Homo sapiens: one gene and its partners. The protein of the gene in region 3 interacts with the protein of the main gene of each other region in a pairwise test. Each region holds a gene or a part of one and is shown on either strand. Other genes may lie near its edges. The genes, in order: ST18, SRGAP2, PCNT, SPTBN2, PARVB, SEPTIN7 and ANKRD24.

Region 1 (3,500 bases), on a different chromosome or scaffold from region 3:
TTCTGGCCTTGAACTTACCATCTGTGGAAGCTGGATGTCAGCAAGGCTTGAAATGAGAGCTTGGCTTAGACCTGCCAGCTCTTTCAGCAGACTTTCATTGTTCTGTTCTATGAGTTTGTTCTCCTCCTCTATCGTCTTTAAGTTGCTCTCCATAGATGTGATCTACAACAGAAATAACTTGGGAATGTGAGTAGTGGAGTTTGGAAGGAGTGTAAAAGGTTTCTCCCTGAAGGAAAATGCACCAAGTGCATCTGAATACTAAGAGATGCAGAGATGCATGCGTGTAACTTCTCAGCATGAAGCTGCAGCCCCACTGGATTGTTTGAAGTGCTGGAATCAAATCCCCAAATTTTCATCTTCAGCCCAGACTTCCTCATGAATTGTAGAACTTCTCCACATGGCTGTATGATGGATATCTCAAACTCAACATGTTTAAAGTAAACTTTGCTATTTTCCCCAAACTTGCTCCATCCGCTGTCTCCCTTTTCCAGTCAGCAGCAACTCAACTGTAGTGCAGACCCCCCATGGCTCTTTCTTTCATACCTCACCTCCACTGGCTCCTCCTTCAAAATATCCAGGATGGGACCACTGTCCCCTCCACTCTGCTGCCCCCTGGGCCCAGCCACCAGTGTGACTGTGCTACCTTCTCGTGGGTGGCCTTGTGTTTGCCATTACCCCATCTAATCTCTTTTTGGCCTTTCCTCAACACAGCCACCAAGATGAGCCTGTTAAAATGCAAGTCAGCATGTCAATCAGATGGGATTATGTTACTCGTTAGCTCAAAACTGTGCTACAGTTCTGCACACATTCAGAATAAAAACCAAGGTCTTTAAAATGGCCTAAGATGCCCCGTGTGAGCTGCCTTGTTGTCTCTGAGACTGTTCTCCTGTGACCTGCCCCACCCAGCTCACTCACCTGCGGCCACACTTCCCTTTGCTATTTCTGAAATCCCCAGGCCTTCTCATGATGAGCACTTTTGCGCTTGCAGGGTTTCTTCTGTCTGAAACACTCTTTCTCCATACTTGTTTGGCTAACTCCCTCATTCCTCAAGTCTTTGTGGATGGCTTTCTTCTTCCTGGGGGCTGGTGGTCCTATTTAGTATTGAAATACAGCCACTCGCCCAGCCCCCTGCCATTCTAGCATACAACACCATTGATCATTTATGACTTTTTTGTTTATTGTCTGCTTCCTCCTTCTAGACTATAAGTCTCAGGAGGGCAGAGGGCTTTGTGTTCTTTGCTAATGGTTTTCTAGAGGAATTCCCATGATTTCTAGACAAAAGTATCAATCTGTGGACCAGATGGCCATTAAATTGATGATGGCAACAATGGTCACTCTGGGTAAGGAAACCTAAATTTCAGATGGATTAAAACCCTTTGTCTTAAGCTGTTGTGTGAGGACTTCCAAGAGATCCAGTAACCATGGTGGCATAAAAATCCTGCATTTCAGAAGAGGAGAGAAGGGAAGGGGAGAAAGACAGTCGTATGCTCTGTCTCATTCTTTTGCTGCTAACTTGTTGCAAGAGAGTTATGATTCATGTTTTAAAAATCTTGGACTGAACTGTTGATTTCCAGGAGATGAGGCAGACATCACAAAGAAGAATGCAGAATTGAGAAATTGCTTGGGCTTTTAGGTAAAGAATTTGCTCAAGAAAATATTCAGTAAGATCTGTTTCTAATAAATACTTACACATTCAGAGGTGTTCCAAAAACATTAAACAAAAAGTTGCTATATTTTACTTGAATTTTGAATAAAACCAAGGATTCTTACCTTTCCATCACATTTTTTTTCTAATGCACCAGAGACTCTTGGGTTATAGGATGATCTGCCTTGTTTGCTTATAAAAACTTCGATGCCACCAGGGCAAAAACATGAGAAAGCTTGCCCAGAGCTACTGAATAAATGGTAACCTGGGATGATCCACCTATTCAGAATTTTACAATAATTATGGAATCTAGAAACACTCAGCATATTGACTCTAAGTTACCATATATTTTCACACAAGTTTTAAAATTTCAATGTTTTGTTTCCACCAAAGATTATGATTACATTAAGGATCATGAATTACTTCTTTTTTTTACCTGGGTCTGAAGTTTCATCATATCTGCTTCAATTTTAAGGTTGGATTCATTCAGTTCCTTTATTTCTTCATCCAAATGCCTAATTTCTTCATCACTCTCTATTCCTGTAAAGAGTAAGACTACCTTAGTTCAAACTGAAAACTGTTAACAAATGAGTCATTATATGTTTAATTTGTGATTTGCTACTTGAAAATGAGACTTTCATTTAGTGTTTTTACCAAAACAATGCATATCTAGGATTCTGAAAAAGTGGATAAGAGAAGTTACAGATTTAATTTATTGGTAAGAAAGAAAAGAGGGAGTAGAAAAGTGCCACCCTTGCATGTAGCTCAGTTATGTCCCAGGGGTGCTGCCAGACCCATTTGTAAATATGCCTTCAATTACATCTTACCACACCCTACAGTGGGACACGCTCCATTATACCCTCCTCACATATGAAGACACCGAGCCCAGAGAGGTTAAATGAGACCCCAAGAATCACTGACAGAAGTTAAATAACCTGCCCAAGTTCAAATTAAGAGGCAGAGCTGGGATTAAACCTCAAAGCCCTTGCATTCTCTTATTCAAAATGCTCCAAGGACAGTTTTATGCTGAGTAATTAAATATCTGTTTAGTTGAATTAGACCTTAGGACCCATGATGGGAGGCAGAGCTGCGGGGCTGCTGGCAGGTGAATTAGTGTCCAGAAACACATTGGCATAGTCTTCCACGTGGACATGGATGAGGAAAATGTAATTTAGGGGGAAGGACATCAGCTTGGGAGTTTGACTCCTGTTCTGCAACTTGGGCAACTTACTTATCTTCTTTGTGCTTCAGTATCCTCTTCTGTAAAATAGGCATGTTATCTACACTGTGAGAATGAATGCAATAAAATGTAGAGCGCTAAACATGCCACAGGCTCTCAGTGAATGGGGGTTATTTCCCATGATTACTTTGTAGAAGGAGTATGACTACATTTGAAAGGTTTCAAGGACCTGGGGAAGGTAGTTAATATTAAGGGTGCGGGAAGCAGGATTGGAGGTAATTTACCTCCTAGAAGAATGAATCTGAACCAGGGTGACAATGAAGAAGGACATGTGAACTTCCACGTAGAGACTTCATAGGAGCAATTTCATGAGAGAAGGATAAAGGGTACTTGGCTTGACAATTGGTTTGAAAGAGATCTGGGCTCTTATACTTTCCTAGGGTGACTACTTTGGGAAATAATCCATTACCTCCTGAAGGTGGATGCTCACATTCTCTATGACCCTACAATTTCTTCCTTAGGTACACACCCAAAACAAATGGTTGCACACAGGAAGCATGCATAAGGTGTACACAGCAGTGTTGCTCGCCAAAAGCACAACTTGAAAGGAAACCACATGCCCACCAAAAACAACACGGGAGATTCTTAGTAATTTAGTGCGAAGAGAAAAAAAGT
Region 2 (3,500 bases), on a different chromosome or scaffold from region 3:
CTTATGCTGAGAACAGGCCTCTCTCCCAACAATGAGGAGCTCTTCCCCTGAGGAGGAGAAAGGATCTTGTTTAGGGCTCTGACCTCCATTGAAGGACAGTGTTCAGATTGTCATCAATAAGCAGAGAGAACAAAGAGGTACCAGAACAGGGAGCAAGGCTCTACTAACCCAGTGAGACAATGACACCTAGGGCATTAAGTGGCTGAAATCTACTGAATCAAAAATCCTCGGCTAAAGGGAGACAGGAATCTGTATTTTAGAGAAGTTCCCCAAGCAACTCTTACGTGAGGCCAGATTTTAATACCAGGGAATTAGTCCAGTTCTTCAGTTAGCTAGAGGAGCTTGGGAGTGGGTGAGAAACAAAGCTGGGTTTCAGAACAATTCAGTGACAAGCCTAGATGACCCAGGTGGTGATATAACAGCAAGACTCGGACCCAAATCCCATATGATGTTGTGAGGTGTGGCAGGTTTGCTTGTGGAGAAACCAAGGCAGGAAAGCAAGAGTGGTCGGGCCAGAGTTTTGCAAAGCCCAACTGCTGCCAACAAGACCCTGAAACAAATGGCAGGCCTCCGAGATGAGATACACTTGAAGCCCCAGAGACTGGGATGCTAAATTGGCTGGCTCCAGATGCCTCACTTTGATGACTGGAAGGAGAGGTGAGAAAGGGTGTAATTACATAGCTTCACTTAGGTGTGGCTCAGGACCTGGGCCAGATTGGAGTCTGTAGGTGAGAGGGCTTGTAAGACCCAACTGTAAGGGGAAGCAGCAGGAAAAACAAGGCCAAGAATAACTCACAGGCAAAAAACAAAAAGCTTATCCCTGCGCTTGCCCCTTGCAAAACACATGTGCCTATTAGCCGCTTTCCTCAATCCCCTTTGCATCACATATTTTAAAAAATGGGCCAGATGTCAGGGGGAGCTGGATACCTTCCTGACAGGACCCTAATTTGCAGCATAACCTTGGACAAGTGAGTCTCGTAGTCCTCTGGACCTTGAGCTTCCTTATCTAGCAACTGGAGACAGCAATGCTTACCCATAATGGTGATGTGAGAGTCAAATGAGTTAACACTGAGAAACCTTAAATGCTATACAAATATAAGGGATGGCATTGTAACTCTTTAGTTAAGTTCTTGCCACTCACTTCTGTGCAAGAGAAGCTGATGTAATAAAGTATTTCCTAGGTCGGGTGCAGGGCCCACACCTGTAATCCTAGCACTTTGGGAAGTCGAGGCAGGTGGATCACCTGAGGTCAGGTCACCTGAGGTGAGGAGTTCCAGATCAGCTTCACTAACATGGTGAAACCCCATCTCTACTAAAAATACAAAAATTAGCTGGGCATGGTGATGCATGCCTGTAGTCCCAGTTACTGGGGAGGCTGAGGTAGGACAATTGCTTGAACCTGGGAGATGGAGGTTGCAGTGAGCCAAGATTGCACCACTGCACTCCAGCCTGGGGGACAGAGCAAGACTCTATCTCAAAAAAAAAAAAAAAAAAAAAAAAAAGGAAGAAAGTATTTCCTGGCAGATAGACGAGTGTAGTGGTTATGAGCCTGGGTTGAGTCATCAGGCCTAGGTGCAAATTTTGCCTCTGTCATTTGTTAACTGACTCTGACTAAGTCATCTAAACTCTCTGTTAATCTGTAAAAATATAGATAATAATGCCTTCCTCCCAGAATTCCAGTTAGGATTGAATAAGTGTGAAGTGTTTCACTTGGTGCTTGGCAAGCACCCTGATGGATCATGGCTGCTATCTTCCTAATTGTTCTCAAAATGCACCAGATTCCTGAACAATAGTATCGGGGAATGTCTGACGAGTATTCTGAAACCAGAAAAGAGGTGCCCTCAGGCCCTTGGCTTTAAGCACTTACATCAATAAGGTCAGATAGGTCATGGATGTAGTACTTGAAGACAGATGCATTGGTTGCCTCCAAAGCCAGCAAGTACTCATTCCGGGCTTTGATGGCCTTCAGCTTATTCTCCGTGTACTTGGCTTGACGCTGAAAAGGAAACAGAAGTTCACTTTTACCTTTTTTTTTTTAAGGGGGGCTTGTTCTCTAAAAGATAAAAGTACAGTGTATTCAAGAACTACAATTGTGTTGCTACTCCCTATGCGCATCTGCCTTAAATTGGGTTCTAATTCTGTTTAATGAGATTCAAGGGCACAATGTAGATCAATTCAGGAAAGGTTAATGAGGCTCCCTACTTAAGATGCGTGCCCCACTTTGATTCTATCTTCAAATATCATTCTTCATTCTTGCAATGCCACTCTGAAGGAGGTACCACTACTCTTGCCCCTGAACACCTGATACCTGAAACCAAATCCTGGGTTTACAGTCACCCCCAACCCCTCCAAAGCAATAGGATATTGAGCTCTATTTGGAAAATGGATTGGGAAAGGTGACTGCTGTTTCTTGGTTTTCTGCTAGAGGCTAGAAACTTGGATCCCACGTGCCCAGTTCTTCCAATACCTAGTATTCCTGCCAGGGCACAGAGCAAGGCCTCATTTTCAGTCATTAGGCACTAAAAGAACCCAGAGCTTCCTCGTCTGCTCTTCCCAGTGACTACTGGGAAATTCCTATCAGCCATGCCTTACCGAATGTTGCTTCCCAGCATCTACAGCTGTGGGAGCCTACATACCTTCTCCTTCATCTTCTCAATCTTCTTCACTGAGCTCCTCCGGACATGTTTCTCCTCAATGCGAACGTTGGCCGTGGAGTCAGGGGAGCGTGGGGTCTGCCGGTCCTCCTGCTTTACCGATTTACCAATTTGCTTCTCCTCCTGCTTCTCCGCCTCCTTTAGTTTGCTCTGAGCACTGATGCTGTCGGCATTGTACATGTGATATGTCTTCATCACCTGCAAGACATCGCCCACCCCCACCCCCAGAGGTCAAGCCAAGGGGGTCATTTCTCTGCTTTACAGACTAACAGACTCAGCTGGAGCTCTCCCCCATGAAGCAATATCCTCACACCCCTAAGGGAAAAATCCAGAAGTGTTTGGTTCAGCAAACACAGATTAAAGACCACTCCAAAGCACAGGAAAGCAATATGTGAACTGAGCCAACATTTCCTCTTATTGAAATAACTTAATGTCTATCCATCATGTATTATTTATTTCTATTCATTATCATTTGTAATCATTTCTCTTTAATATTGGCCAGGTGATTTCTATCACTTAGTCACCTCATAATACTGAGTAGATGGGAAACAACACCACCACTCTCAGGCCCCAAGGGCAAAGCCTTTCTGGGCTGGTCAGGAACCCCGAAGAGGGCAGTGCAGCCTATGGAGTAGCCTATGCTTTCTGTTACCTTTCAGATATAAAATAGGGAAGAGGAAAAGCTTCCAAAAGCTCCTTTTACCGGCCTGGCATTCTGGGGATCTGTCTGTTCTGCTTTATCCAGATCAAACACCCTCTCACAGCAACTGCAATGCCAGTTATCATTTACTGAGCACTTAGTATATTCCTGGCTTTATGCCAAGTACCACACAACACATTTTCTCA
Region 3 (3,500 bases):
GTTCACACACACACACATCCCTGTAACCTTCATAAGTAACCACCATTCACAGAGCACACAGCGATGGCCCCCCCAAAAAGAGCAGCAGGCATCTCCGCCTGCCACAGGCCCTGGCTCTCTCCCAGAAAGGTGTGTCAGTGGAACCAGCCCGTCTGGGACCTCCTAAACTGGCTTTTTTCACTTTTTGGGTTTTTTTTCTGAGACAGGGCCTTGCTGCATCTCCCAGGCTGGAGTGCAGTGGAGCAGTCACAGCTCACTTCAGCCTTGACCTCCCAGGTTCAGGGATCCTCCTGCCTCAGCCTCCTGACCTGCAGTGGTGTCAGCAGCAACCTGTGCACGTCCTCCCGTACACTCTTAAGTCATCTCTAAGATCACTTGCAGCACCTCATTCAGTGTAAATGCCACGTAAATAGTTGTCATCCTGTATTGTTTAGGGTGTAGGGGCAAGAAAAGAAGCACACGTTTGGTACAGACACATCGTTTTTTCTGAATATTTTTCACCCACAGTTGGTTGAATCCATGGATGTGGAACCCACAGCTGTCGAGAGTTGACTGTGCTTGTAGTTACCAGTGGTTGGCATTTCTAGGACCGGAGAATATGAGAGTGTTTAAGGCTTAAAGCTTTGAATTTGGGGTGATTTTACAAAGAATTGGTTTTCTGTTTCTGTTAAAATGTACCTTTTTTGCAATCATACTTCAGCAAGTGGCATGTCGTAATTACTCCATGTTAATTCTTTGGCTGATCACAGCACGGCGTAACCTAGGCCCTGCTGAGGGGGTGCTGAAGTTGAGGAGGGGCCAGGTGTGGTGTGGTCAGCCTGGCCTCCCCGCACATGGCCTTCTCCCTCACCTGCCCCCGGCTGCGTCTCTAAGATGCTCTTGTTGACGAGCAGCTCTGTAGACAGCGCTGGCTGTGCTTCCTTACAGAGGTCGGAAAGGTCTGCTTGGAAGCCAGACGAAACGGCTCCACAGAGTTCCCTGAGGCGCCCAGACCCCGGCCGGCTTCCACCAGCTGCCAGCGAGGAAGCACACACCAGCAATGTCAAGGTAGGAACGGTGCCACGAGTATAGAACTTTGGTGCTTTTTTAAGTCCTGGGTTTGCAAATTGCAGGCAAAGCATTTTTGTGACCACAAGGTTCTCGTCTGCCGGGTGTAGCAGTCACATCACTAAAGGAAAGGACGTTCACAGAATAAACTTCGGCTTGAATTTTGTTTTAATTGTGCACAAATACTGAGTTTCTGTGCTTGTTAAGCGTGGAACGTGGAAGGCTTTGACAAAGTCAGCAAATGGCGGCCTCTGCAGCCTGAGGGAGGCCTGGCCCAGGGGCTTGCCGGGATTCGGCCCAAGATCTGCTGCAGTCTCCTGATGGCACACGGTCCCCACCCCGTGACGTCCATCTCATGCCCAGTTTGGACCTTACCTAAGGGGTGAAATGCAAGAAGCTTCATAGGGGCTCATTTGATGATGCTGTGGAGAGGAGCTTGTGGTCCTAGATCTTGTCTGACAAACACAAATTGATCTTCCAACAGCAAGGTTGTTTCTGGCCACAGATACTGTTGGAAGGCCGATGGCTCTGTGATGATTTGATGGGAAAAAACAATCTGACTCTTTGGAAAGAGCAATGGTGTTAATGTGCTTTTGTCAGCAAGACAGTCTTTGTTTCCTATGATAAAATTTTACTGCTTTTTTTCTTTTAGATGGAAAAATTGTACCTGCATTACTTGAGAGCAGAGAGCTTTAGAAAAGCTCTGATTTATCAAAAGAAGTATCTTTTGCTGTTGATTGGTGGATTCCAGGATTCTGAACAAGAAACACTCTCCATGATTGCCCATTTGGGGGTATTTCCTTCCAAAGCAGAACGGAAAATCACATCTCGTCCTTTCACCAGGTTCCGCACGGCCGTCAGGGTGGTCATTGCAATATTAAGGTAAATGCCATGACGTTCAGTCAGTGCGTTCCGCGTCTGTCTCCGTGAGTGGGCAGCACACTGCATGGTTTTTTGGTCATTTTATTCCTTGAAACTCCATAATATGTTCTTTTTAAAGATGAATGGCATTTGAGGCCTTAGAGAAAATACAGATGATGAACTTGTCTTCAAGAAGTCATGTGTATGAATCTCTCACCTTCTAAAACTAAAGATTTAAGGGCACCTTTGTATTACAGAGGAACATCTTGACTTTTAATGGGTTTCGTGCCACAAAGAACGTGCTGAATTTCTAAAACTGTTTTTCCCCCTAAACACTGTGCGGCTGTGCCTGCTCCCTGATGCCACAGAGGTGTTTCCCAAGGCCACGCGCGGGCCTGTCTGGAGTAGCAGATGCAGCAGAGAGCAGCTAGGAATCCCGCTCCTTTCAGAGACCAGGTGCCGAGCCAGTTCAGTCATCGCGGCTGCAGGCTGGGCCAAAGTGGGGTGCAGGCGAGGCCTCCTGGGTTGCTGTACTCTCAGCTTCTCTGGTCCTGGGGCACTTTGTCTCCTCGTCTCTGAGCTCCCCTGACCGTAGGCCTCCACCGTCCATCCTTCCACCCACCCATCTGTCCATCCTGTGTTCATGGGGAGAACACCCTGCAGGAGGAAGCATTTTAGGCACTAGATAGGGGAGGTAAGCAGACCCAGATCCTACCTCCTGTCGAGGAGGGGAGATCTTTTGAAGGCAGTGGTGTCCCAGAAAGGAGCAGTCTCTGTGTCCCTGTGAGGGCACTGCCTAGGGTAGCTGCCACCAAGGGGCCTTGACAGGTCTTATGGAGGAATCGGCAGTGTCTGCTATGCCTCAAAGGAGGGAAGCCACAGGCATGATGCTTGTTCCGAAGGCCATCCTAGCAGGGCGTCTGGGGCCCTGCACACTGACCTGCATGCCCTCGTCACCTGCACTCTGCATGCTCACCATCTGACGGACTCCTGCGAGGGCTGGGGTCTCCGTGTTCTGAGCCTGTCCAGTGGCATCTGTGACAGGATGAAGATGGGAGGGTCCTGCACACCAGGCGGGAGCGGCATGTGTTTCCTAGTCACTGGTGTGGCCGGCTGACTTTGAACTGGAGTCGTCCTGAGCTGGGCCATGGTGGGTGTCTAGGGGACCATATGGTCCACGGTGGGGCCGCAGTGAGGCTTTGTCAGGTGGTTGGGCATGGGAAGGTCGCCGCCGCCGGCAGCCCTGCGAGCACTTTGGATGTGTGCACCCGGCATGCCAGGCCCGAGTCAACAGACTGGCCGACCTTGGCGTCCTGGTCCCCATGGGCAGCGAGGCCCCCATTCTGCTTGTTTGGTCACAGTGGGGTTTTCATTGCTCTTTCCCTTCCTGTCTTGCCGTACTTTTAAGTGTGTCTTGTCTCTTTTTTTTGTAGATTACGTTTTTTGGTTAAGAAATGGCAAGAAGTAGATCGGAAAGGAGCTCTGGCACAAGGCAAAGCCCCTCGCCCAGGTGGGACTCCAGCTGCTGTTGACCGCTGGACTCACAAACCTTTCTTTCTACTCTTGTTTTTCATTCACTTTGGGTCATTTTT
Region 4 (3,500 bases), on a different chromosome or scaffold from region 3:
TGTGAAACGAGGGCTGTTACCATCCTTTCCACTTGCTTATCACCACCTCCAGTGCCAGCCCCTTCCCTGCCCTCTGGCCCACCAGGGCCATCCTCCACCAGGCCATCCCTGCCCCCAGACGCCCCGCTGCTGGGCACATATACCAGGCGCCCTTCCTCTGGGCTTCAGCGTTTGTCATGTGCAGCCTACACTTGCCCTTCCTCATCTTCATTCATTCAGTGTTTATTTGACACCTACTGGCTGGAGACACAGTGCTAGGCAAATCCCATGCAGAGCTGCCTCTTCAGGAGAGCCCAGTTCAGTGGTGGAGATAAACACCCAATGAGAGCACGAGGTCACACAGATGTGTGCACAGACATGGTGACAGTGCTGGGTGGCCCAAGTTATGTGCAGCCAGACATGGTGACAGTCCTGGGTGGCATGTGTCCTATGTACACAGGCATGGTGAGAGTCCTGGGAGGCATGTGTCCTATGTACACAGGCATGGTGACAGTCCTGGATGGCATTTGTCATGTGTGCAAACATGGTGGGTGGCACATGTTGTACACACATAGACATCATGACAGTTCTAGAGGCTACATGAATCCAAAACCAGAGTGCCAGGAACATTTTCCCCAAACATGACATTCTCCATAACCCACACCTTCTGTCTTCTCTGATGTATAGACACACTGGTAGGAGTGTTTCACAGCCGGCCTGAAGACCCAACCAGAAGGACAGAGAGGCCCAGGAGAAAATGAGAAGGGGTCCTGGGAAGCTATGGCTGCCACAAGGGGGTCCTCAGACTGGTGCTGAGCTGGCTCAAAAGAATCACTTGGGGAGCTTTTGAAAAATCCTGAGTTCTGGACCAAGATTCTAACTTATTGTGTCTAGGGAGGGGCTTGGAAACCTGTATTTGTAAAAAACATCCCTGGGTGATCCTGTAAAACATGTGGCCAGGTTTGGGAACCTCCCCCTTGGAGTCTCTCTTCTTCTAGTGGCCAACCCCCACCCCCACTCGGAGCACCACCTCTCGGTGAGAGTAGCTGGGACCCCTCAGACTGGGTTGGGTTGGGCTGGGCTGGGCAGCCAGCAGGTCAATGGCAATGACAAGAGTGGGATGGAGGAGGAAGCCAGACGGGGTAGGTGGCCTTGGGGTGTGTGGGTGAGTCAGCCCCATGCCAGCCACTGGTGGTGTCAGGTGGCAGCCGCACTCTTGTTGCCATGACAACTCCTCCCCCGGAAGACAGGGAGGCCGTTGGACGAGTTTCCGCTCAGAGCGGAGAGCCCAGGCCCTGGGCTGCAGGGAAGAGTAGGAGCCAAGGCAGGCAGAGAGCACACCAGGGAGAATGGGCGGCTGCAGAAACCAGCAGCAGCGGGTGGAGGGAACCTGCTTCAGGGAACAGGCAGATGAGATAATGGGAGTAACAGGTGGCAGGTGGAAGGAACAGGTGGAGAGGGAGCAGAGGGGAATAATAGACTGGGAACAGGTGTGGGAAATGACAGTGGAAATCAAAGAAGACACAACAAGGGCATGACAGGTAAGGGAGAGGTAGGCGGAGAAAGGAGTGGCAAGAGCGAGAGTGCCGAAGGATGAAGGGACATGACCCGGGGGCTGAGGCCAGAGAGGGAAGCTGTTTTAGTCAGCTCAGCCAGTCCAGGGGCCAGTGAAGCGTCTCTATGCTTGGGGGGAAGAGCTGGGGAAAGTTCTGAATGGCCTGGAGCCTATTCTTGAGGCTGGATGTGGGGACCAGGGAATTGATAGAGTGCTCTGGGTCTCCCACTTAGAAAGAAAAGTCAGTCTTCCCATAAAGTTAAAGGGCTCTTCATGACGAGCTGACAAAGCCTCCTCCAGCATCCCCCCACCTCGACCCTCCTCTGACCTCACCTGCCAGAGCCTTAATGCGAGACCTCTCAAAGAGGCGGGCCGAGCTGCTGTCATTGTCCCAGTCCGAGTCAGGAAGGTCCCAGCGGTTGTTGATGTCACTGTACTGGCCCTGGATTTCCAAGCTGTCAAAGTCTGTGGGTGACAGCGTGCTGCTCATGGTGGTAGGCGGCTTCCTGCTCCTGCAAGGAGAATGTGGCCAGTGAGGGGTGTCCAGGGACCACCAAGCCCTCCACTCACCACCGGGGCCTTCTGTCTTCTTGCCCTACCTGTGCTCCGCTCTCCTTGTGGCCAGAGGCTGCGGTTGGCTGCTCAGTGGAAATCAGCCCCCAGGGGAAGAGGGGAAGCCACCTGGGAAGCCTGGGGACGGGAATACATCAGAAGCACAGAAAGTGAAGCAGGAAGGCAGCAGCAGCTCAGAGCAATGCGGTGGTCAGGAAAGGCTCCAACGACTTCGGGCCAGAGAGGGACGGGTTTGCGGGGTGAAGAAAGGGGTGATGGGCTTCAGTGCTTCAGACAGCAGTGTGCAGCCCAGGGTAATGCAGGCAGCACATATGGGGCCCCACAGGCAATAATGACTAGAAAGTGGCATTCTTTCCTTCTACAAACTGTTTTGAGCCCATGATCAACCCAAGATGGCCTACTATACCCTGTAGGCAAGTTGAGAGAAAAAGACCCAGATTTGTTGGGCGCGGTGGCTCACGCCTGTAATCACAGCACTTTGGGAGGCCGAGGTGGGTGGATCACCTGAGGTCAGAAGTTCAAGACCAGCCTGACCAACATGGTGAAACCCTATCTCTACTAAAAATACAAAAAATTAGCTGGGCGTAGTGGCAGGCGCCTGTAATCCCAGCTACTCAGGAGGCTGAAGCAGGATTATTGCTTGAACCTGGGCGCACCTTAGAGCGAGACTAGTAGAAAAAAAAAAAGACCTAGATTCTGCTCTTGAGTTAAGAAAAAGTTATGATACGCCAGGAAGACTGACACACTGTTTAGCAAGTGCCCAGGAGTTCAAAGGAGGACACAGTATGCTTCTCTCCGCTTTGTTTCCTTTGGTTTGCCACAGAGAATGTTAGTAAGTACTCAATAAATGTCGGCTGTGACATATCCCTGCCATTGACATGCATCACGTCACCATAACTCCCTGTGGGGTGAGGGCCCACTGTTGTCCCCATTTCATAGATGAGGAAGCTGCACAAAAGATATTAAGTTGGCTGGGCGCGGTGTCTCACGCCTGTAATCCCAGCACTTTGGGAGGCCAAGGCGGGCGGATCACAAGGTCAGGAGATCGAGACCATCCCTGGCTAACACGGTGAAACCCCGTCTCTACTAAAAAATACAAAAAATTAGCTGGGTGTGGTGGTGGGTGCCTGTAGTCCCAGCTACTCGGGAGGCTGAGGCAGGAGAATGGCGTGAACCCAGGAGGCGGAGCTTGCAGTGAGCCGAGATCTCGCCATTGCACTCCAGCCTGGGCGGCAGAATGAGACTCTGTCTCAAAAAAAAAAAAAAAAAAAAAAAAGACATTAAGTTGGCTGGGGGCATTGGCTCACACCTGTAATCCCAGCACTTTTAGGAGGCCAAGGCGGGTGGCTCACCTGAGGTCAGGAGTTTGAGACCAGCCTGGCCAACATGGTAA
Region 5 (4,052 bases), on a different chromosome or scaffold from region 3:
CAGTTCCCTTTTCTGACCCAGGCCACCACGTGACACGCCTCCCGTAGCACATCAGCCTTAATCACGCCCACCGTGAAGCTCATTCTCAGACACTTCCTGCACTGCTTCCTCCAAACCCCAGGGCCCCACATTTCCTAACCCCTCTCCTCTGGAACAGGCCACGTCACTCATCCCAACCATCCCTCCCAAAAGTCCCTCCGTGCCTTGTCACACCCCTGCCTGAATCTGGAACCTCACCGATGAGCCCGCCCCTTCCCCCAGCTTCCCCCTCCTCCCTTAGAGTCCTCAACTCAGGAACATGTCGGAGCCACATCCGTTCTCCCAAATCCACCCTCAACTTTCTAACAAAGGAGGAAATGAAGCCGACGGTGCAGCAGGCAGGGTCGTGGAAACCTCCCAAGCGCCCTGTCACTCCCTGGTAGGCAACCGAGCATAGCTCTGACGGCCCAAAGTCAGGGCCAGGGGCTGCTCCACCCTGGAGTGGCAGAAGCGCATGTTGCCAAGGCAAATGGGCTTGCGGAAATACCAGCGACTCTCAATTATTCAAGCCCTCATTATCCAGTCTTCCTGACTCTTCCACTTCCCAGGAGACCACACAGAAGCCGCTAAACCCTTCCCAATCCAGCCTGTCCCTCAATTCCTGTGCCTAGATCCAAGGAGGGTTTGTGGCCCTCTGTTTGCCAGGCACCCCAACCCTGAGAACCGAGGCAGGGCGCCCAGCTCACCCCCAGCGAAAGCAGCATCAGCAGTGCCCGGCGTCCTGCTCCTCCTCCTGCCTCCACGCCCGTTCTATTCAGCACAGGATGCTTCCTGCTACCGGAATTCTTGGTGCATTTGAATTAAACCAGGCTGGGCCTGAATTTTCTAGACACACATCAATTCATACAGGCAAGGAGGAGAAGCACTGCGTACTTTGGAATTTGGGCCCAGTCCATTACTTTGGGTGTGTGTTCTTCCTATTCCGAGAGCGTAAACGGCACCTAGAAAAAGCTGCAATAGCCCAGAACATTCCGGTTCCTTGCCATTCTATGAAAGACTTTTTCCTCTGGTTCCTTCTGGCCTCCACTCAAGTGTCCCCTCCTCAGAGGCCTCCCCTGGCTCTGATCGCCCTGTTCTATGTGCTCCGGGGCACGTCATCACAGCGCCAGTTGTCTATGTATTCATTCCCCGTTCCACGAAAGCAAGCACCCCGCCCCCGCTCTTTTCTTCCTGGGGTCTAAGCAGCACCTGGCCCATGGCGGGCGCTCCACAGGCTGTGGGCTGAATTGGGAGGGGAGCGTCACTTGCGTCTATAATCGTTGCAAGCCATAAAGAGGAACCGAAATGATTTCTGGTGAGGGTGCTGATGACTGCATGGAAGAACAGTGGGGATGATAGAAGGGTGACAGCCACTAATCATGTCATTTAGGAGACGTGACCAACACCGACCAATACAAGCTACAGTGGGTCCTCCAGTGTAAGGCTTGAGAGAAGAGTGACCTATCCGCCAGGAGACCTACTGAAGGGGACAAGACCCTGCCCTCTTGGAACAGGATCACGGGTGGGAAGACACGCATCCCTGGGGGCACAGGCATCCCTGGGAGAAAATGTCTGGGGAACCAAGCGTTCCCTGCACTGTACAAAAATCCTGGGGAGCAGGTGCATGGGGGCACACACATGCCTAGAGGCAAATCTGTCATATGTCTTCCCGGGGCACACACATCCCTAGGAATACAAGAGTCCCAGGGAAGAAATGAATGGGGGACCTGCATCCCGGGGTACACTAATCCCTGGAGGCACAGGAAGAGTTCCCAGGGGATATGTCAGGCCCAGGTGGTTTAAGGAAACCGTACTGCATACCCGCTATGGGAGGGCTCCTTCCCGGGGACCCACCTGAGGCCGGCCTTTCTCCATCTGCCTTTCCACAGCAGCTCCCCTCACCTCTCACCAATCCGAAATCTCACTATAGGGCATGGTCCCGGGGCAGAACCTCCCCACCCAAGCAGAAAATTCCAGAATGTATCTCCCAGGAGGCCCTGGGCAAGCGGTACACTTAAAGACACCAGACTATCCCTTGCAACTCTAACAATCTTTAAAACGTACGAGGTTGGTAGTGTTTCGTGAGCACACGCAGTAAAAAATTTAAAAAAAAAAATTTTTAATGGGATCTCTGCAATTCTTGCTCGCAGGCCTCCCAGGCCTCAGCCCTGCACGCCCTGAGCCCCGCACCCTGCAGGGCGCCCGCGCAACACCCAGTAGTGGGTCCCCCAGGCCGTGTCTGCCCAGAGTGCCCTGCACACGTGAGCGTCACTGCTCATGGAATGAACGGTCACCCCGCGCGGCTGGCTATGCCGCTGGCCCAGGGAAGAGCTGAACACCCGGCAGGCAGAGCAGGCGCGGGCCCCGCACGGTGGCCCGAGGTCCCCGCCGCGCAGGCGCCCGCACGCGCGTTTGGCAGACTCCGGAGGCCACCGCGGCCCCACGCGCCAGGTCCCGGCCGTTGTTTACGGGTCCTGGGTCAAAGGCCTGGCCTGTCCCGAAGGTCGCGCAGCCGCGTGGGCCGGGCGGGGTGCGTGGGGGAGGGCGGGGGCGGCCTCGTGGGGCTCTAGGGCCGAGGGCGGGCACCGCCGGGCAGGTCCCCGGGGGTCGGCGGGCGCGGGCGCGCACTCACCCTCGCGCGCCCTCCGCTTCCTGGCCAGGGTGCCGCCCAGCTTGCCCAGGAACGACTCGTCCTTCTTCATCCTGCGGGGCCGCGGGGTGGGCGAGCGCGGCGCGGAGGACATGGGCCGCGCGTGGGGCCGGCGGCGGGCGCAGCGCGTGTGGAGCCGCCCGGTCGCCCCGGGGAGAGGCCGAGGGCGCGGCCCCGCCGCCGGCCCCCGCCCCGGTCCCGCCCCCGCCCCTGGCCTGGAGCGCGGCCCCGGCGTCCCGGATGCCCGAGGCCTGCTGGTCCCGGCCAGAGCCGTCCCCGTCCCGCGCCGCCGCTCAAGCTCAGAGAAGGGGCGTGGGGCCACCCCGGGAGCGGCGCAGCCTTTTCCCTACGCGTTGGAGCCCTGGGCTCTGCTCGGCTCCGCTAGTGGTGCCGGATCCAGGCGACAGCGCGACAGACACCATTGCCACGTGGGTGCAGCCTCAGGACGTCCTGAAAGCCGGAGAGAATCAGGTCACACGAACGTGGCCGGTCTGTTGTTAAGCTTCTGCCAAGAGCCAGGCCCGGGGCAGGGGGAGCCCTTCAGAACTGGGAATTGTCCCTACCCACGGGAAGCTTAGAGGATGGAGGGCAATGCGGGGCACAGGTCATTGGCCTGACCTCCAAGGGGAGTTCCAGGAGTTGTTTCTGGAAGAGGCGACGGGGAGGCCCCAGGAAATGGCTTGCAGGCCGGTACCATGAGGTGAGCAGAAGAGCAGGCCCTGGGGACAGTGTGGGGTGCCAGGGAGGGGAGAGGAGGGGAGACAGGCCTCGCATGTGTTGGAAGCAGAGGAAACGGCTTCATCCCGAGGACTGCCAGACAGGGCTATTTTTATTTTATTTTATTTTATTTTATTTTATTTTATTTTATTTTATTTTATTTTATTTTATTTTATTTTGTTTTGTTTTATTTTATTTTATTTTTTTAGACGTAGTCTTGCTTTGTTGCCCAGGCTGGAGTGCAGTGGCACAATCTCGGCTCACTGCAACCTCCACCTCCTGAGTTAAAGCGATTCTCCTGTCTCAGCCTCCTGAGTAGCTGGGATTACAGGTGCACGCCACCACGACCGGGTAATTTTTGTATTTTTAGTAGAGATGCGGTTTTGCCATGTTGGCCAGGCTGGTCTCGAACCCCTGACCTCAGGTGATCCGCCTGCCTCGGCCTCCCAAAGTGCTGGGATTATAGGTGTGAGCCACCATGCCCAGCCTAGATACCCAGGCAGGGCTTTGAGCTGTGATGTCACAGATGTTGCCTCTGGCTGATGGCTGCTCAGCAGGTGCTGGAGACAGAGAAGGCACAGGCAGGCGGACGGTGACTTAGGAGAAAAGCAAACAGATTTCTGAGATGCTCACAGCCAGAAGCCCCAGCCTTGAAGAAGTAGGAGGA
Region 6 (3,500 bases), on a different chromosome or scaffold from region 3:
GGAGCAAACTTTGGGCCCCAGGTAAAGAACCCCTCAATTTTAGTTATGTTTTCAAATATGAAAACAGAAATAGACTTAATGATGAGGCAGGATGCCAGCCAGGGTGGGGCAAGTTGAGTATCTCTTATTTGAAATGCTTGGGACCAGAAGTGTTTTGAATTTTTTTGGAATTTTGGAATATCTGTGCTATACTTACTGGTCGAGCATCCTTAATCCAAAAATCCAAAATTCAGAATGCTCCAGTGAGCGCTTCCTTTGAGCAGCATGTCAGTGCTCAAAACGTTTTATTTTGGAGCAATTCACATTTTGAATTTTCTCTTTAAGAATGTTCAACCTATACTACAACTTTAGGACTTAACACACACTTGCCTGACTTGGTAGGATACAGGTTTGAAAAATACCAATGTACTTAAAGAGAAAATTGAGACTACAAGAACCTGAAATCAGTATTATCCTTGAAAATCTAGACTATATCAATACAGTGTGCATACTGTACTACTTACTATAAATACAAATTTTTAATCAGTTTTGAGATATTTTAGAAAGTCATTCACTGAAGAAAATCTTACCTTCAGCAACACCCCAAGGATACTGCCTTCCTCTGACCCTTTTGCCATTAACTTCAATGATAGTATTACTACCTACCACAGCAAGAGGTAAACGGTCCTATAAAACAAAGTATTCTTGTTCAAATACATCTCTGTAGTCCTCACAAATTCAAAAATAAAAAAAGTTACATTACTCAACAGGTTAGCCAAAAAAAAAAAAAATTTACTTTCGATAGTTTCTGCATTAGTTTTTATAGGCCATTTAACAAATATTTAGTAAACTGCCATCACATGGTATTGCCACCAAGGTAAACAATAAATAAAATTAAATTTTCTCTTTAATGTTAAGAATATTCAAGCATATACTGGTCAAATTATTTACTAAAAATCACTACAGAAAGTTGTCCCATACCTGGGGGGGGATAAAAGGTAAAAACTATATTGGCATTTGGGGGAAAAAAAGCGGGGGGCTAATGACTAGCTTGCCTACTTGATCACAAACCAACTATAACAGTACCTAAACCAGGTAATAGTATATTTGTTAAGCTCTAACTTTGGAAATTCAAATCCTGGTGACTGGATTTGTGTTCATCCATGTTCAGCCCTTCACAATTCTGTGGCTCCCAGAAATACCTAAGCAGCTATTTACAACTGCAGAAATTCTTCACAGGCAATGTATAAGAATTTCATTATTCCAAGATATTTGCCTACATAATGCCATTATTCAGTATACCATTTTTAGGGCCAAAGTACATAGAAAACCATGATAAAATACAGAAAATATGTTGATGTGAATTTTTGGTTGGTTTTTATTGTTTTTAATTGAAACATAATTGTACACATTTGTGGGGTACAGTATGGTATTCTGATAACTTTATACAAATATGTAATGATTGAATTAGGGTAATTAGCATATTTATCAATTCAAACTTATTTTTCTGTATTGGGAACATTCATAATCCTCTTCTAGCTATCTGAAAATATAGACTAAATTACTGTTAACTACAGCCACCCTACAATGCTACAGAACGCTAGAACTTACTCCTCCTATCTAGCTGTAATTTTGGTTGGCTTTTATAGAGACAAAATAAATACATTTTTGTCTGGCAATTAAAACATAACAGAACGAATTCTCTCCTTTCTCATCACTTGTTTTTTAAGAGAAAAAAATTACATAATATGAAAGCCAGTTAATTAAAAACACTTTGAAATAAGAATTGTGTTATTCACCTCAGTAGTTTATACAATTCCTTATTATATATACTAGCTAATCTTCAAAGTTAACTATAAAGTTGAATTCAACATTAAATCTCCCTAGGTATTTTGTAAGCCAACTACTTAAAACACTGATACTTTTGATCTTTCCTGTGGACGCTGTAGTATGTTTTTAAGGCCTCAGATTACTTTAGCGTGTGTACAGGGATGAACCTACCTTTATCTTTTTAACAAGTTTATTTTCTTCTTCATCATCTGTTTCTGGAAATTCGTATATTTTAATTTTATGTTCTTGGATTTCTTTCATTATCTAAAATGGAAGAAGTAGTCAGCAAAAGAGCACCATACATAATTAGTATATTAGTCTTATGTTCATTACATGCCTCTTCGATTCCTATATGGGTCCTTGGTTCCAGATCCTTTACTGTTTTTTAATGATGCAAAGTTGTAATCTAAAATTAAAGTACTACGCTAGTCTTTTTTTTTTTTTTAACTATGAAGTTGATATATAAACACCAAATCCAATTACTTCCGAAGTGTTAAAGTCATATAGCTGTCATACCAAAAGAGTTCCAAAAAGGATGTAAAACTCCAGAAAGGGATTTCTCTGATTGATTTCCACAATAATGACTTTAGGTCATTTATTTACAATGACTGAGATTCTTCCTTTAGATATAAATTCCCAAGTATCTTATTTAGTTGAATAAACAGGGCTAAACTCACGTAAAATTTTTAGTAGAATCTGGCAAAAGTAAGGTAAAACTAAGTACAGCACTGCTCCCTGAACATTCATCAGAAAAATCCTTACATGTACATGTGCATACACACAAATTGAGGAGCAACAGGTGTAAGATTAGGGAAGGACACAGGGAGAAAACACATCCTAGAAATTAAGAAGCTCAAGAATTAATAAGGAGAATGCAGAAACCTAGAGAAGACAACTTATTATTAACATCAGAAATGACCTAGTTCAAATTAAATTATCATGTTCAAAATCACTCCAATTCTAAACAGAATACAGACATCCAAATAATTTTCAACTACCTATCCTTATTTGAACCCATAACAAACCAATGGCTAATATACCTAAACCTAGCTTCCCTGTCTATACTTATATTTTGGTGCAACTTTCTTGGCAAAGGTTCCCAGCAGCTATAAAAGGACCCTGAACAAATTGTGTTACATGGTTACTATAGTAGACAGAAGTAAACAGAAGTAAAATTGTCACTGAAAAAAAATAGGACCACACTTCTTTTACAATTAGGGTACGTACCTATATTTAAAAAAAAAAAAAGAATAAACAAGGAATTGACAAATACATGATGACGAGAAAAATGAGTAATAGTAGCTAGCTCTAAAAGCAATGGTTTTAGTCAGAGGTTGTATATTAAAATGACCTGAGTACAACCACCAGGATGTGACCAATTTGAAAGAAGAGGTCACTTCATATTCATCTTTTTTACCTTTATCAGTAAAAATCCAAATCGAAACACATAATAAACAAAAAGAAATGTATTATATGATAGTGTTTGAAACTTAGAAATAGCACATTACAAAACAAAAATGGGAATGGGTAAGTGTAAAACACAAAAATACTAGATACAGTAAAAACAATGTACTAAAACTTTCTGAAAATTAGTATGAATTTAGCACAACTTCAAAGCAAATTTTAACAGGCTTTTTATAACAGGTTTCAAGGTATTCTGAAATTCATATTGAAAAAGGTGAAAAACAAAG
Region 7 (3,500 bases), on a different chromosome or scaffold from region 3:
ACTGCACTCCAGCCTGGGCAACAAGAGTGAAACTCCATCCTCCCCACTCCCCAAAAAATACAAAAATTAGCTGGACATGGTGACGTGCAGCTGTAGACCCAGCTACTTGGAAGGCTGAGGCAGGAGAATCGCTTGAACCAGGGAGGCAGAGGTTGCCGTGAACCGAGATCACACCATTGCATCCCAGCCTGGGTGACAGAGCGAGACTCTGTCCAAAAAAAAAAAAAAAAAAGAAGGAAGGATAGAAGGAAAGAGAGAAGAAAGGAAGGAAAAGGAAAGGAAAGGAAGAAAGAAGGAAGGGAAGGAAGAAGGAAAGGAAGAAAGAAGGGAAGGAAAACGAAGGAAGGAAGGAAAGGAAGGAAGGGAAGGAGGGAGGGAGGGAAGGAAGGAAAGAAAGGAAGGAAGGAGGGAAGGAAGGAAGGAAAGGAAAGAAGGAAAGGAAGGAAGGAGGGAGGGAAGGAAGGAAGGAGAAGGGGAAGAAAGGAAGGTCCTTTCTGTGTCTGTGCACATTTGTAAATGTGCATGGGTGCATGTGACTGTGGGACTGTTTGTTTGTTTGAGACTGAGTCTCGCTCTGTCACCCAGGCTGGAGTGCAGTGGTGCGACCTCAGCTCACTGCAGACTACGCCTCCCGGGTTCAAGTGATTCTCCTGCCTCAGCCTTAAGAGTAGCTGGGACTACAGGCGCGCACCACCACACTCAGCTAATTTTTGTATTTGTAGTAGAGACGGGGTTTCACCATGTTGGCCAGGACAGTCTCGATCTCCTGACCTCGTGATCCGCCCGCCTCGGCCTCCCAAAGTGCTGGGATGACAGGCGTAAGCCCTCGCACCCAGCCAAGACTGTGGGTTTGTGGGTGCATGTGTCTGGTGCGTGTGTTTGCACGTGTGTGAGGCTGTGCATGCACTGGTGTGACTGTCTTGTCGCTGCTGTAGGAGAGAAGTTCCCCGACCCAGCCCCAGCCCAGCCCTGACTCATCACTGCTCCTACCTCCAGCAGGGACAGCCGGCTCTGCAAACTCTCCACCTCCCGTCCCAGGCTCTCCTTCTCCTCTTGTCTCTCCACCAGCAACTGCTGTAGCTCTTGCACCTGGGAGCAGCAGTGGAGGCTCAGCTGCCTCTGGGAGGAAAGGCTGGGCAGCAGGAGGACCGGCTCCTCCCCACCTTCCCACCTACCTGTCTCTCCAGGATGTGCAGGGAGCTGGCCTCCGGGGACTGACGGGAGAAACAGGGACAGGGGTTTGGATCTGGGCAAGAGGCCTCCCTGCCCCACCTCCTGCTTCATAGCCTCCATTCCATGCACATTCACGCATTCCACGTGCAACTATTCAGCACCTACTGAATTCTGCCCGCTCACTCATTACTATTGAGTGCCTGCTGTGTACCAGGCACCATTCTGCCTGCTCACTCATTACTAAATATTTATTGAGCACCTGCTGTATGTTGAGCCTCATTCATTCCTATTTATTTATTTATTTATCTTTTTTTTTGAGATGGAATCTCACTCTGTCCCCCAGGCTGGAGTGCAGTGGTGTGATCTCGGCTCACTGCAAGCTGCGTCTCTTGGGCTCACGCCATCCTCCTGCCTCAGCCTCCTAAGTAGCTGGGACTACAGGCGCCCGCCAACAGGCCCGGCTAATTTTTTGTATTTTTAGTAGAGACGGGGTTTCACGGTGTTAGCCAGGATGGTCTCGATCTGCTGACCTCGTGATCCGCCTGTCTCAGCCTCCCAAAATGCTGGGATTACAGGCATGAGCCACCGCGCCCGGCCTCATTCCTATTTATTAGGTGCCTACTTTGTGCCAGCTATTGTTCTGACCTGTCACTCAGTATTTATTGAGCACCTACTGTGTGCCAGCATGCACCATTCTGACCAGTCATTCATTTCTAAGTATTTATTAAGTGCCTGCTGTGTGTGCCAGTATGCACCATTCTGGACAATTACTATGTACTTATTAAGCACCTGCTGTATGCCAGGCACCGTTCCATCCACTCATTCACTCAACAAGATTGTTTTTGTTTGTTGTTGTTGTGGTTGTTGTTGTTGAGATGGAGTCTTGCTCTGTCACCCAGGCTGGAGTGCAGTGGTGTGATCTTGGCTCACTGCAACCTCTGCCTCCCGGGTTCAAGCAATTCTCCTGCCTCAGCCTCCCAAGTAGCTGGAATTACAGGCCCCTGCCACCATGCCCAGCTAATTTTTTTTTTGTATTTTTAGTAGAGACAGGGTTTCACTATGTTGGCCAGGCTGGTCTCGAACTCCTGACCTCAAGTGATCTGCCCACCTCAACCTCCCAAAGTGCTGGGATTACAGGTGTGAGCCACCGTGCCCAGCCAGAAAGTTTTTACTGGGTGCCTCTTATGGGGCAGACCTGGTTTTGGCCATTCATTCATACACTCACTTGAATATTCACTCACCCAATCAATATTGACGACGCCCATACTGTGACCCAGGCACCATCAGCCATGCCTGCCCTCGCAGGCTCACAGTCAAATGGGTGGACACACATAAAACAGATGCATGCCCAATAGCAGCAAGTGATGCAAATGGAGATAAAGAGGCCGGGTGCGGTGGCTCACACCTGCAATCCCAGCACTTTAGGAGGCCGCGGCGGGAGGATCACCTGAGGTCAGGAGTTAGAGACCAGCCTGGCCAATGTGCTGAAACCCCGTCTCTACTAAAAATACAAAACTAGCTGGATGTGGTGGTGGGCGCCTGTAATCCCAGCTGCTTGGGAGACTGAGGCAGGAGAATCGCTTGAACCCGGGAGGCGGAGGTGGCAATAAGCCGAGATCGTACCATTGCATTCTAGCCTGGGCAACAAGAGCGAGACTCCGTCTCAAAAACAAAACAAAACCAAAAATAAATAAAAAAAAAATAAAGTGAACTAGCGAGTTGGCCGGGGGGGTGGTGGGGGGTGATGTTACAATTTTGAAGAAAGTGGGCATGGGAAGTGGGCATGGGAAGTGGGCATGGGAAGTGTCTTTGGCGAGGAGCCTACTGCATAAAGTAGGTGAGGTAAAGAGCTGTGGGGCCATCTGGGGCTAGAGCATTCCAGGCAGAGGACACAGGTGGTGCAAAGGCCCTGAGGCAGGACTGCGCTAGAGCATTCCAGGCAGAGGACACTGGTGGTGCAAAGGCCCTGAGGCAGGACTGCGCCTGGCGAGTTGGAGGAACAGCGAGGAGGCCCAGGTGGCTGCAGCAGGGTGGGGAGGGAGAGAGATGGAGGAGGGAAGGTGGGAGAAAAGTAGGGGGATCTTCATGCCTGCATTGACCCCACCCAGGCTGGCCCACGCCCAAATCTCCGAGGCCTCCTAACCTCCTGCTGCCTCCGTTCCTTGTGCTGTTCCAGGCCCCGGATCTTCTGCAGGAGGCGGCCCCTCTCCTGCCGCAGCCTCACGATCTCCTCATAGGCATCTCGATCATCCTGTTCCCCTCCCCACCACGGCCTTTAGATGGGGCCTAAGGTTGCCCCATCCCAGGTCTCAGCCAGAGCCCCTCCC

Evidence for each region.
Region 1: the proteins of PCNT (region 3) and ST18 interact in a two-hybrid assay, tested with the Homo sapiens proteins (one large-scale study listed by BioGRID and IntAct).
Region 2: the proteins of PCNT (region 3) and SRGAP2 interact in a two-hybrid assay, tested with the Homo sapiens proteins (one large-scale study listed by BioGRID and IntAct).
Region 4: the proteins of PCNT (region 3) and SPTBN2 interact in a two-hybrid assay, tested with the Homo sapiens proteins (one large-scale study listed by BioGRID and IntAct).
Region 5: the proteins of PCNT (region 3) and PARVB interact in a two-hybrid assay, tested with the Homo sapiens proteins (one large-scale study listed by BioGRID and IntAct).
Region 6: the proteins of PCNT (region 3) and SEPTIN7 interact in a two-hybrid assay, tested with the Homo sapiens proteins (one large-scale study listed by BioGRID and IntAct).
Region 7: the proteins of PCNT (region 3) and ANKRD24 interact in a two-hybrid assay, tested with the Homo sapiens proteins (one large-scale study listed by BioGRID and IntAct).

What each region holds. Positions count from the first base shown.
Region 1 is NC_000008.11:52,116,257-52,119,756, forward strand, and holds part of ST18 (suppression of tumorigenicity 18 protein), read right to left. Parts: intron 2,186-3,500; coding exon 2,082-2,185; intron 163-2,081; coding exon 19-162; intron 1-18. UniProt on the Homo sapiens protein: Repressor that binds to DNA sequences containing a bipartite element consisting of a direct repeat of the sequence 5'-AAAGTTT-3' separated by 2-9 nucleotides. Represses basal transcription activity from target promoters.
Region 2 is NC_000001.11:206,392,041-206,395,540, reverse strand, and holds part of SRGAP2 (SLIT-ROBO Rho GTPase-activating protein 2), read right to left. Parts: intron 2,853-3,500; coding exon 2,637-2,852; intron 1,997-2,636; coding exon 1,868-1,996; intron 1-1,867. UniProt on the Homo sapiens protein: Postsynaptic RAC1 GTPase activating protein (GAP) that plays a key role in neuronal morphogenesis and migration mainly during development of the cerebral cortex. Regulates excitatory and inhibitory synapse maturation and density in cortical pyramidal neurons.
Region 3 is NC_000021.9:46,439,156-46,442,655, forward strand, and holds part of PCNT (pericentrin), read left to right. Parts: intron 1-927; coding exon 928-1,047; intron 1,048-1,699; coding exon 1,700-1,929; intron 1,930-3,341; coding exon 3,342-3,418; intron 3,419-3,500. UniProt on the Homo sapiens protein: Integral component of the filamentous matrix of the centrosome involved in the initial establishment of organized microtubule arrays in both mitosis and meiosis. Plays a role, together with DISC1, in the microtubule network formation.
Region 4 is NC_000011.10:66,719,217-66,722,716, forward strand, and holds part of SPTBN2 (spectrin beta chain, non-erythrocytic 2), read right to left. Parts: exon of another isoform or gene 2,225-3,500; 5' UTR 2,134-2,224; intron 2,047-2,133; 5' UTR 2,025-2,046; coding exon 1,868-2,024; intron 1-1,867. UniProt on the Homo sapiens protein: Probably plays an important role in neuronal membrane skeleton.
Region 5 is NC_000022.11:44,023,050-44,027,101, reverse strand, and holds the start of PARVB (beta-parvin), read right to left. Parts: upstream 2,801-4,052; 5' UTR 2,763-2,800; coding exon 2,651-2,762; intron 799-2,650; exon of another isoform or gene 726-798; intron 1-725. UniProt on the Homo sapiens protein: Adapter protein that plays a role in integrin signaling via ILK and in activation of the GTPases CDC42 and RAC1 by guanine exchange factors, such as ARHGEF6. Is involved in the reorganization of the actin cytoskeleton and formation of lamellipodia.
Region 6 is NC_000007.14:35,881,057-35,884,556, reverse strand, and holds part of SEPTIN7 (septin-7), read right to left. Parts: intron 2,074-3,500; coding exon 1,981-2,073; intron 667-1,980; coding exon 570-666; intron 1-569.
Region 7 is NC_000019.10:4,210,189-4,213,688, reverse strand, and holds part of ANKRD24 (ankyrin repeat domain-containing protein 24), read right to left. Parts: intron 3,425-3,500; coding exon 3,317-3,424; intron 3,194-3,316; coding exon of another isoform or gene 2,999-3,193; intron 2,625-2,998; exon of another isoform or gene 2,439-2,624; coding exon of another isoform or gene 2,415-2,438; intron 1,215-2,414; coding exon 1,176-1,214; intron 1,090-1,175; coding exon 991-1,089; intron 1-990. UniProt on the Homo sapiens protein: Component of the stereocilia rootlet in hair cells of inner ear.